3 separate regions of the Homo sapiens genome follow, and all the other regions are linked to region 1. The links come from fine-mapping of genetic effects on gene expression. A gene starts in region 1. Each other region holds a variant in brackets. All regions are shown on one strand. Distances are from middle to middle. Region 1 holds the start of STX11 (syntaxin 11). Region 2 overlaps STX11 (syntaxin 11). Region 3 overlaps STX11 (syntaxin 11).

The links.
Region 2: its variant is fine-mapped to the expression of STX11 in testis (GTEx, PIP 0.92).
Region 3: its variant is fine-mapped to the expression of STX11 in whole blood (TOPMed, PIP 0.99).

What each region holds. Positions count from the first base shown.
Region 1 is chr6:144,148,778-144,153,019 of GRCh38, reverse strand. STX11 (syntaxin 11) reads right to left here and starts at 2,503. Exons shown (of 2, transcript NM_003764.4): 1 at 2,317-2,503. RefSeq lists a silencer at 2,377-2,816.
Region 2 is chr6:144,175,456-144,179,697 of GRCh38, reverse strand. The region is part of intron 1 of STX11 (syntaxin 11); the gene reads right to left. Among named protein-coding and RNA genes, the nearest start is that of STX11, 27 kb to the right of the region's middle. The variant T/C (reference allele first, on the strand shown) is at 1,691.
Region 3 is chr6:144,185,674-144,189,913 of GRCh38, reverse strand. It overlaps STX11 (syntaxin 11), which reads right to left. Exons shown (of 2, transcript NM_003764.4): 2 at 1-3,291. The coding sequence starts at 3,286. The coding sequence ends at 2,423. Among named protein-coding and RNA genes, the nearest start is that of TRL-TAA1-1, 29 kb to the left of the region's middle. RefSeq lists an enhancer at 2,941-3,441. The variant C/T (reference allele first, on the strand shown) is at 2,353.

The DNA of each region.
Region 1 (4,242 bases):
AATGTGATAAAAAACATTGATTTGAACTACAAAAACAATGATCATAAACTCGCTTCAATATAGTGTTACCAATGTATAAACTATTAGGCAGGGCATGGTGGCTCACATCTGCAATCCCAGCACTTTGGGAGGCCAAGGCAAGCAGATCACCTGAGGTCAGCAGTTCGAGACCAGCCTGGCCAACAGGGCCGAACCTTGTCCCTACTAAAAATACAAAAATTAGCCGGGTGTTGTGGTGGGTGTCTGTAGTCCCAGCTACTTGGGACGCTGAAGCACAAGAATTGCTTAAACGCAGGAGGTGGAGGTTGCAGTGAGCCAAGATTGCACCACCACACTCCAGCCTGGGGCAACAGAGTGAGACTCTGTCTCAAAAAACAAAACAAAACAAAACAACCTATTAATTAGTCACACCATTTCCTAAAAGTCATGCTGTTAACTAAAGGTGACTGCAATTGTCCAGGGGTGATAATCAGCTGAATTTCGTTTTACATGGTTATTAAATAACATGAAACATGGTTCATTCAAGCACTTTAAAAACCATACCTTTCAAATTCATACATTTTTAAATCATGTATCAAATGAAGAATAGGCTGCCTACAAAGACAAGTAAATGACTAAACTCAAAAGTTTCCTTGCTCTTCCAGCCATGACCCAGTCCATTCCAAATCCCAGATCTTCAGAAACATCAGTCATATTGGGACAGAAACTTTTCTCTGGGTATAGATTTACCCTAGCACCTATCTCATTATATTGAATTTTCCAGCATATTTAAATAAACTATTAATTAGTCACACTATTTCTTAAAAGTCACACTATCAACTAATCGTGACCGCAATTATCTAGGGGTGATAATCTGCTGAGTCTACTCTTTAAATACACTGGGACCCAGCATATTGAGTTATATTGGCACAGAAACTTCACTCTGGGTATAGATTTACCCTAGTACCTTGCCGGCAGGATCCTATTATTCATGGTTGTACAAGCAAGGTTCAGGGAAGAGGCTGGCACAGAGAAGGTACCTGGTAACTGTTGTTTGAGGCTGAATTCAGCTCAACTCAGCTCCAGTAGAGATGGTGTCCCCTTCTCTACCGTGTTGAGATAGTGTGCAGTCCCTTCCTAAGGGCTGTTACCCACCGCAATAGGACTTGTCAGCTTCAACTTTTAAATTTCTCTGCTCCCGCTGGGACCCACCCGCTTCAAAAATCATCATGTGGTTTTAGCACCAATTTAGTAAACACAAACTGTCTGAAATATTTTGATTTTAGAGAGTTACTTACAATCACCACATTAAATGATACCTTTCTCCCATGCAGTGAAAATGACAGCAAAATGGTCATTGAATAATGAAATTAATTTTCTCTTGGGCATCTGTGGCAAAGCACATGATTTCAATGGTTATCTTAGATCAGCCCAGTGACCTTTACTGGCATGTTGTAACATCAGGCGCCTTAGGAAACTGAAAACTCAATCGTCACTTCCCATACCACTGCCCCAGGTTGGCAGGGCAGGCATTTCACATCTAGAGTCTCATTTTAAAGCAAGCCTCGCTTTTCAAAAGTTCATTAACAAAGTCTCACAATTAAGAGAGCAGCCCTGTGACTCATTTTTGGATACCTGTAAATAACAGCTCCTCCCTCTGCTGAGAAACGGCTGAAACAAGTGCGTGAGAACCACAGGAAGTAATACAGATCTCAGCTGGTGTCAGCGGAGTCTAGAAAAAGGCAGAATTCCCTCTCAGGACGGCGTGGCTCTCGCAGGCATTGCCACTACTTCTCTCCATGTTTCTAAAACAAAGTCTTACGTGGGCTTCGAAGGGACTCCTCGAAGGCTCTATCAATTTCTCCGTCTTTCCTGGCTACTGAGTGACACCGCCAAGTTCAAGTCAAGAAGTACCCATTCTGGTGTTTTTGACACAGTCACCCTACTAGGAAGTGAAGAGGTGATAATAAAAAAACACTCCAGCCTTTCGATTTAAAATAAAAGTAGTCTTGGGTGGACACTTTATAAAGGCAGCCTACCAACAGGTATCCCTAAAATAATTCTTACGAAGCACTAAATCCTAAGTCCCTCAGCCTCTGAAATTAAAAGTAATTTTAAAAAATCATTCTGCTTTATATGAGAAACCCAATGCTGTGTTTCCGAAGGTGCCCAGAGGCGGCGTGAGGACCTGCGCCAGATCCAAAATCCCACCTAAGGCACAGCCGCGGGTCCCGAGCCTAGACAGTGCCCCCGCCCCGACCCGCCCTCCCCGATCTCTCCGCGCACGGGGAAAATAGTCAGGAAGAGAAATGGGGGCTCAGGAAGAGAAAAACAAACCTGGACTGGGAGCGAGAGTGCGAACCGAGAAGCCCCTCTCCCGGCAGGGCGCGCGTCCCCTGTGGGCGCAGCGATGGAGAAGGAAACCTGTTGCGCGACTCCCGGCGGCTCCGCTCCCGGCGCCTCCTGCGGCCGAGGCTGAGTTCCTCCACGGCCGCCCGAGCTCCGCGCCGCCGCGGCCGCATCTGGGCGCCGCCGGCTCAGCCCCCGCCGCTTAGGAAGCGACCACAGCTGGGGACCAGGCCCCGCCCCGGGATGACAGCGCTGGGGCGCGGCGGCAGCCGGCTCACAGAGCGCGGGTTCCCGCCCCACCCAGAGTCCATGCGCTCGGGACCGCCCGGAGCCGGGGACGCGCTCCAGCCCCTCCCGCAAGCCCAGGGGCGTTCCCGCGGGCTGCGCGGACCGGCGCGGGGAGTGGGATGTTTGCCGCCCAAGACACTTCCTCCGCTCGTCCTCTGGTCCCCAGGGCAGGGAGCGCGCTGGACTTCCCCCGGGAATCCCCGCTGCGCTGGTGACATTTGCAGTCCGGTGCGTTGCCGCGGCGAGGACGCTGGAAGCCGTCTCTGAGCGTGGGTGTGGCTGCGGAAGCTGCGGCAGGTCCTGCATCCCTGGGACCCTCGAGGACGCGGGCGAGGAGCCTGCGGTCACACGGAGGCCGAGCACCGCCTTCCCAGAACCCTGCCGACCAACCTCTCTCCAGTCGGCCTCAACACCCGCCGGGCTCATCATTCTCTGGATATCAACTGAGCGTCCCCTTGTGTGCCCACCGCGCTCAAAAATACTGCCAAGACCCACCCTCCAGGTCCCGGCACTTTAACGGGGAGGGATAAATAGAAAGTGTGGATTGTGCCAGGTGGTGGTAAAGCACCTTGAAAAACAAGGCTGAGGCTGAAAAGTAAGGAAGTGATACTCAAAAAAGGAAAAATCGGGCCGGGCGCGGTGGCTCACGCGCGTATTCCTAACACTTTGGGAGGCCGAAGGGGGAGGATCTCTTGAGCCCAGGAGTTTGAGACCAGCCTGAGCGATGTGGTGAAAGCCTATCTCTACAAAAAATAAAAAAATTAACTGGGCGTGGTGGCGCACGCTGTGATCCCAGCTGCTCGGGAGGCTAAGGTGGGAGGATCACTTGAGGCTGAGAGGTCAAGGATGCAGTGAGCCGAGATCGCGCCACTGTACTCCAGCCTGGGCGACAGAATGAGACGCTGTCTCAATTGAATGAGAAGAAAAAAAATAAAACTAAAGAACGAATCCTGCCTTGATGGCAGAATGTTTAGACACAGGAACCACCTGAAAGCTCCCAGTTGCCAAAGATGGAACCATTTGAGCAACGAAGTAAACTAAACAAGGTAGTATTGGATTACAAGCCAAAGTAAAAAAATCCATGAGTCTACACTGATATAAATAAATAATTGAATAAATAAATAAAAGGCGGAGAGGAGACAAATCTCCTATACAGAATAATTCCAAATAATTTATGTAGATCATGTACCCTAGGCTGTGCACAGTGACTTCCTCCAAAATAGTACAATGTGGAAAGGGAAAAACAGTAGGTTTACAATGGAGAAAGCCGACAGACACTACCCCAGCCAGATGTTCTAAGCCAACGTCAACAATCGTGACTCATTGATGGCATGTAGTCAATATGATGTGATGAATGTGGCATATTACATGTGTGGTCTCCCTCCTGGAAAACCATAACCTCAGTCTCATAATGAGAAAAATATCAAACAAATTCCAGTAGTGGAACATCCTACAAAATACCTGACCAATATTCCTCAAAGTTGTCAGGTTATCAAAAGTAAGGAAAGTACAGTCCAGACGTGGCTCACGCCTGTAATCCGTACACTTTGAGAGGCTGAAGCGAGAGGATTGCTTGAGGCCAGGAGTTCGAGGCCTGATCTGGCCGACATAGCCAGATGCTGTCTC
Region 2 (4,242 bases), 27 kb before region 1:
GCCCAAGGGCATGCATCCTGGTGAGCTGAGCATGGTTGGATTGCCAGTCTCTCTCATCTGTGGTGAGATCACAACCTGCACAGCCCCATGGGGTCACCCTGTGTACCCCTTTCTCAACCACCTCATCCAGTCCCTCCTGCCCACACATCCCCGCTACCAGAGGCACCTAGAAATTCCACAGGTAGAGTGTCACTGTAATTTAGCAGTTCCTTTCTAGCATACCCCATAGTAACACAGCCCTTAAAGAACAACAAATGGACTTTCCCCAACAGGTTCATAAACAATAATTTCACTCAACTGAGTAAAACCAGTGTTCTGTTTCTTGATTTTTAAAATGACACATCTAAGAGGGTGATATGGTTTGGCTCTATGTCCCCACCCAAATCTCATCTTGAATGGTACTCCCATAATTCCCACACGTTGTGCGAGGGATCCGGTGGGAGATAACTGAATCATGGGGGCGGTTTCCCCCATGCTGTTCTGGTGGTAGTGAATAAGTGTCATGAGATCTGATGGTTTTATTAGAGGTTTCTGCTTTTGCATCCTCTTCATTCTCTTTTTGTCTGCCACCATCCACATAAGATGTGACTTGCCCCTCCTTGCATTCACCATGCCTCACCATTGCCTCACCATGATTGTAAGTTCTCCCCAGCCACGTGGAACTGTAAGTCCATTAAACCTCTTTCTTTTGTAAATTGCCCAGTCTCAGATATGTCTTTATCAGCAGCATGAAAACAGACTAATACAGAGGGAAACACTATTCTTTGAACATCAAAACATTACAGGTTAAAACTAAAAAGTTCCTAATGAATAGCTCTAATTTTCTTGCTGCTCCGAAGTTAATTTAAAAAAAAAAAAGCTTGTATCGTATCTTAAAGTGCATTGGGCAAGAACGCATTTAATATTGTCTTAGGGCTCATTCAAAGCAAAATTTGAAAGGCTGAAGAGTATTAATTGAAATGGTTTATAACGATAAAAGTCTGAGGCTAGAAGAAATAATTTTTAAATGTCTCTTGTTTTCTCTTTGCTCTAAAGCAGAAAGCAGGTAGGAGTTATTCAAACCACTGCTGGAGGAGACAGCCTCTACTTTTCAATCACTTTACTCATTTGATGCCCTCTGACATAATTCGCTTTTCAGTTTCCTCAATCAGAATTTTCTGCCAGTGTGTGAAGAGAAAAAGGCAGTTTGATATGCACAGTTGATAAACAGCCAGTGGGTAGCTGGGATTTCACTTTTAGCAATATGCTTTCAGATGCTTTCTGTAGAAATGCACGGGAAATCAAAGCAGCTACTCCTGTGTAGGTTTCATACATTCTGCTCTACAGTGAACATTTATTAAGCATTTGTAAAATGCCAAATGCGGTACTCAGCAATGGGCAGGTATTAACCCATTTATTCCTTATGAGGTATTATCATCATCCCCAGTCTACAGGTTTGAGGCCTAATGAGTTTAAGCAGTTTGCCTAAAGTCATACAGTTATGGAGTTGAGATATAAATCCCAAAAGTGTGACTACTTGAGAATCCATCCGTAATCCACAAAGCTACACTAGCTTCTTTTTCCTAAACTCCCCACAAGAAGGCTTCTTTTAAAATCGTTAGTCTAATAGGAAACGTATTCCCTAATTGAGCTTTTCTATTAGGAACAATTATTAGCATCTAATTCTTAGAACTGGATTAACACATGGAAA[T/C]ACTGTCACCATTAGAATCACTACTTTCTTTCCCACACAAATTTCTTCATATCAGAGTTTCCCCAACATTGCAACACTTCAGTTGTTACAGTCCTAAAAACAGGGAGTAAGTCACCACAACTTTAAAAAAAATCCATAAAATTATTAACTCTCTGAAATAACAGAATACAGACACTTGGAGATGTAAATTTTACAGTCAGGTGCATAGAAGCCACAGCAGGAAAGGACAGTAGATGAGCTTTCTTTCTTCTTTTTTTTGAGACGGAGTCTCCCTCTGTCACCCAGGCTGGAGTGCAGTGGTGCAATCTTGGCTCACCGCAACCTTTGCCTCCCGGGTTCAAGCAATTCTCCTGCCTCAGCCTCCTGAGTAGCTGGGATTACAGGTGTGCACCACCACACCCGGCTAATTTTTTGTGTGTTTTTAGTAGAGATGGGGTTTCACTATATTGGCCAGGTTGGTCTCAAACTCCTGACCTTGTGATCCGCCTGCCTCAGCCTCCCAAAGTGCTGGGATTACAGGCGTGAGCCACCGCTCCCAGCCAGTAGATGAGCTAAGGGAGAAAGTAAAGACAGGAGCACTCAAGGGTCAAGGCCTCAAGGCTCAAGTCATCTGTGCAAATTTTTCCACTTGTATCTCTATTAGTATTTACAAACTAAAACAGTTGTTGTAACTCTTACATCTGATTTCCCTTTGGCCCTAGAATGTGAAGCAAAACTTTGCCTGGAAAATACAGCAAAGATCTATGTTTAAAAAATGATGGGGAATAGATTTTGAGTCCAGTTGGAAAACATATATGCCTTTAAGTAATTCCTTTATATTTTGTAACTATTCCATGAAGTATCTTTGAAAGGGAGAAATCCATGGAGTTTCCAGAATCATCAATGACCTTTTCTTTTCCAACTCGTAACACCAGTTAAGAATTTTTACATTCCTTTATCTGTTCCTCTTTCTTGTAAACAGTGTCCTTTGGGCCACTTATTCTAGTCTCATTGCCTGGTTACTCCTGTTAAATTCTCCCAGAAAAAATATTCTTATATATGGCTGATATCTTTTACACAAGGTACGGAAATATCTGAGTTATCCAACATCATCAATGCATGAGGGTTTTCCATGTAAGTAACCTTTACAGTAACTGAAGTTTCTCCCTTCAAATGTCAAAGGCATCTACTTATCTTTGTTGGAAATCCTCTTCTAAAATGCCTGGACACACTTCCTTGCTTTTTAAAAAACAGGGCATTAGACACAATTTATTGATGACTCAAATGGCCATTATTAACATCTTTCAACCATGTGTTCAAAGATCAGCTTGATTTGATTTAAAATGTTTCTCTTTCCTGGGAGTTAAAATAGCAAACCCTTCCTCAGTTATCTCCACTCACCACTGACAGTCTTCTCACTCCCTTTAGAGACTGTGGCAAGCAAAGACATTCGAGAAGCAAACATTCTATAATAGTAACTTTCTGCGTGTGTCTGCAGCCCTCTAGAATCAAGCCCACTCCGTAAAGCAAGGAAGGAAAAACGAATCTCAGTGACAGACTGTGTGCACCCCAAACCAGTCATTGTGCTTGAGAACTGATATAAAATCCACCACAATCCTCACAATAACCTTGGGAGGAGGGTAACATCATTTTCGATTTACTAATAACTGGGTCTCGGAGAAGTTAAGTTCACCCAGTGAGTAAGAGAGAAGTCTGGGATTTAAACTCACATCTGTCCAGGTCCTGAGTTCATGCCCTTTCCACTTAATCATGCACTGAAGCTGTTGGGGGAGTTAGGGTGGGAGGCGCTAGTGTGGGGAGGTACTAGGTCGGGAGGCGCTAGTGTTGTTAAGGAGCAATATTCTCTGCTCTGTTTCTTCCCTTCTCTGGCATCCCTCTCCACCTCCTCCTGCAAAGGGGCATGGAGTTGCTTATCTAATTAGTGAATCTAAAAGAAGAACCTGTCTGCAGTAGCCCAGCCACTTCTTTCTTTTTCCTAAAAGTGGGTTTAGCAGAGAACCTGTGTTGTCTCTGCACTACCCCTGGGTGGGGTGGGTGAAATCAGCTGTGGCCAGGGAGGGTAAATCCAGCTAATGCTGGCTTCAAGATCAGAATGCACAGTCCCACAGATGTAAGCCACATCTTCCAACCTTGTCTTTATCGGTCACTAACGAGACCCTTTGGCCTCTGACTGCTTTTCCTTTCTTATTTCTCCACGGGTGTGGAAGTCAGGTGGGTAAGGAGCAGCTACTTACTGTGTTCCTTCCTTAATCAACCCAACCACCATGTTAAGTAAAATCAAAGAAGGTGAGAGCAGAAAAAGCCTGTAATGACTAGCTTGCACAGTGCCTTCACTGTAAAGATGAGGAAAGAGAGGCTCATTGTATTCACATACAAATAATGATTAAAAGAGTGTTATTAAGGCTGGGCGCGGTGGCTCATGCCTGTAATCCCAGCACTTTGAGAGGCCGAAGTGTGTGGATCACCTAAGTTCAGGAGTTCAAGACCAGCCTGGTCAACATGGTGAAACCCCATCTCTACTGAAAATACAAAAATCAGCTGGGCGTGGTGGC
Region 3 (4,240 bases), 37 kb before region 1:
CTCTCCTCTATTATAAAAAACATTGCAGTGGAGCTATGTGAACATTTTTTCCCCTTTCCCTTAGAGAAAGCAAATTAAGTCAAAGGTGATACATATCCTTGGAGTTGGCTGAAAAAGAAATTGGGAGAAATATGAGAATAGCCTTGTGGAACTTGGTTTCCACAATTCTCAAATTTAACCATGAAATTAAAATTAGATACAGGGGATAGATTTTCCTGGTCATAAGCAAGTCAGGCAGTGAGCTCCAAAGAATTCACATACTCCTCCTTCTAATTCTTTTAAAATTCCAGCTTCTAAAGGACCTGAGAAATATGATCACTACTAAACTCACTCATGTATTAAATAATGATTAGGAAGAGCTAAGAGTTGACACAGAGGAAGGCCAGGAAACATGGTAAATGTGGGTAAGGGCATTAAGAAGTTTGCAGACTACACCATATCTCTAAAGCCTCATGATTTTGCTAAAGTATTGTAACTCAGGAGAGAAAGCAAGACACCCTCATGGGAATTCTTTTGAGTTTTTCATTCTTTTCCCCCTCCACTCAGTTCCATCCAGATGTGGCAGCCTCAGTAGCTAGTAGAAAAAAAATTTGGCCAGGGTCAGTGGCTCAGGCCTGTAATCTCAGCACTTTGGGAGGCCAAGGTGGGCGGATTGCTCAAGCTCACAAGTTTGAGACCAGCCTGGGCCACATGGCAAACCCTGTCTCTACAGAAAATACAAAAATTAGCCGGGCATGGTGGCACATATCTGTAGTCTCAGCTATTTGTAGGCTGAGGTGGGAGGATCACTTGAGCCTGGGAGTTTAAGGCTGCAGTAAGCCATGATTATGCCACTGCACTTCAGCCTGGGTGACAAAGGGAGACCCTGTCTCAAAAGGGGGGAAAAAAGGCCAGGCATGGTGGCTCACACCTGTAATCCCAGCACTATGGGAGGCTGAGGCGGGCGGATCACGAGGTCAGGAGATCAAGACCATCCTGGCTAACACGGTGAAACACCGTCTTTACTAAAAACATAAAAAATTAGCCAGACATTGTGGCACGCGCCCAGAGTCCCAACTTCTCAGGAGGCTGAGTCAGGAGAATCGCTCGAACCTGGGAGACAGAGGTTGCAATGAGCCAAGATCCTGCCACTGCACTCCAGCCTGGGCAACACAGTGAGACTCCATCTCAAAAAAAAAAAAAAAAAAAGGAAAAAGAAAAATTTTAACAATAATTGAGAAAGTAAACTAAATGGTCAAGCCAGAAATGTATAAAAATATGTGTATAATGTAATGTTTATTAAGCTTGCTTGAAAAACAGAATTCTTTTACTTTGAATTTCTCCATTTCAATGCATGGAAGGAATGGTCCACAGTAAAACAAAAGCAGTATTTCCAAGAATGTTAGTTGTCTCTAGCTCCGTATACATTTTCTACCGCCATATGTCTACCGCCATAACCAATGCAGAGTTGTTTAACATGAAGTTTGACCCAAACTGGACTAGGAAGGGGCAAACTGGAGTGAAACAAACTCAAAACAAGCAAACCAATACCAAGAGCCAGAAAAGTGTTCGTCTTGAAATTTATATACCATACTTACATAAAAGAAGTTAAACCAATTGATCATTATGTACATATATTAGTGAATATTAGTATTTTACATTTACATACATGTGCATATGTAATCAAGTAAAAATATAAATGTTAAATAATTTTTATCAGCGAAAAATACACAAAACATGACTGATACTTCAATTTGAGTGCTTGTTCGATATTCAGTGCTTAAAAATGTTTGGAAAAATAATACCAAAATATAACCTGGTGAAAGATATTTAAAAAGTGAAAGAGATAAGAAAATAGTAAGTGTTTGGTGTGATTTTAATAAGTAGGGGAAATGAGCAGAAATAAGATCTATATTTGGGGAGGAATTGCATAGCGTAGACCGGATGAAGAATCGGAAAGGAAGAACGTGGTTTTTCCCAAGGCCAATTTCGCTCAAAATGGAACAGAACCAGGGAATTTTCAGGACAAAGTAAATGAACTGAAGTTTCCATCATGAGTTCATTCTATTAGCAGATGCCCAATTGACTTCCTCCTTGAGTCTTTATTAGGAGGCAGGCCTCAGACATTCACCCTACAGTCAGATACAACTTCAGTTCCTTACTTGGCTTCTGTCAAGACGGTAAGAGTGCAAGGTGTCATATAATGACATTGCACAACTTTGTGGGAATCTATCTTTACTGAAGAATCATCGGACGGTATCAACTAACCATCTTTCCAAGCACAGGCTGGTTTGCAATTCTTGAACCTGGCGTTTCTTTTCTAAAGACTGAGTTCCGGAAAGGGTTGGGGCAACTCCCTGCAGGGCAGAGCTC[C/T]CGGCTTTGGTGCGTCCTTCCCAGCGCGCTCCATGGTCTGGGATGGGCGGTGGCGGCCCGGGCCGGCCTGCTACTTGAGGCAGGGACAGCAGAAGCAGCAGAGGGTCCGGCAGGGGTTCTTCTCCTCGTACTGCACGGCCTTCCGCACCTGCGCCTTGGCCTGGCCGGTGTAGTCGACCGTCTTTTGTACGTTGAGCTCGATGACGTTCAGGGTGTCGGCCTGCTTCTCCACCAGCACCGCCATCTGCAAGAAGAGCTCGTGTACGTCGCGGATGCGGCTCTCCAGGCGCAGCAGTTCGCGGTGGCGGCTCTCGATCTCGTTGAGGGCGGCCCGCGCGCCCTTCACGTCGGCCAGCAAGTTCTCGGAAAACACGTCCCACTTACCCTGCTCGAACATGTCCTCGATCTGGTCGCCCGAGACTTCCTTGCCCATGATCTCCAGCTGGCGCTGGATGCGGATCTTGCAGTTGTCGCGCTGCTTCATCTCGGCCTGGTTGTAGTCGTGCATGGCGCGCTGGAAGGTGAGGGTGAGCGCGTTGTACTGCGCCCGCGAAATGCGCGCCACTGCCGAGTGCGGGCCGTGCTGGGCCTCAGCCGCCTCGCTCAGCTCCTTCATGGCGCGCAGCTTGCAGTGGATGACCTCGCCCCGGGCCTTGATGGCCTTGGCGATGGAGTTGGTGTCGCGCTTGATGCTGCTGAGGCGCCGCATGGACGTGAGGAAGCGGGCGTTCTGCTTTCCCAGCCGCTTCACGTCGGCCACCAGCAGCTGGTTTTCATCCTGAATGTCCCGGATGTCTCGGTACAGGGACTCCAGGATGTGGTCCGTCTCGAACACGATGTCCTCGTGGGGCGAGTCAAACTCATCGTCCCCGTCTGGGAACTGCTGGTCATATTGCTTGGACAAGTCCAGAAGTTCTGCTAGCCGGTCTTTCATTTTGCCTGCAAGTAGAGATAATGAAGTTAAATTTCTCTATTGAGAGTCAAATATTTGCCTTCAAGGGATTGAAACTTAAACATTTTACTCAGCAGTCCCAATTTTGTATTCCTCGGTGTGGGCAATAAGTGCACTAAAGGAGCTAAATGTTCTGACATTTTGCTTACAAGGAAAGAAATAAGATGACTGAACAACATGAAACAGTTGTGTTTTAAGGCCTATAGGCACCTGCAGTTCAATATCATAGCCGCGCAGAACTCAATGAGCAATTTAAAATTTTATTTATTTATTTATTTATTTATATATATTTTATTATACTTTAAGTTCTAGGGTACATGTGCACAACGTGCAGGTTTGTTACATATGTATACCTGTGCCATGTTGGTGTGCTGCACCCATTAACTCATCATTTACATTAGGTATATCTCCTAATGCTATCCCTCCCCCCTCCCCCCACCCCACAACAGGCCCTGGTGTGTGAAAATTTTAGATTGCATTGGGAAACCATCTCTTTTCATTGCTTTATGTTTTCCAATCATTGCAAATTAAAACAGACACAGAAAAAAAAAAAAAGAAAAAAGAAGAAGAAAGACTTGCAAACTTAAGTATTTTTAATTGAGGATAATCTACAAGGCTTTGGGGCCAACATCTAAATGTTGCCTATTTTGTGTCTATTTCGGCACTGGGAAGCATCCCCTCCTGTACACACTAACAACTCTTAAAACAGTTACCATGCAAATCATGATTTAAATTTTTTTCTCTTGAAGATGTTGTAAAAGTAAAACATGCTTGAAGTAAAATGACAACAAAATACAGAAATCTAAGTGTAAAATTTAGAAGTTGAGGTTTCCTTACTCCTCTTCTCAATATCATTCCCTAATGATAAGCATCGTAAATAACACTGCTTTTTAAAATGCTTTTATGTGGAAAATTCCAATCATACGTGGCCTAGTA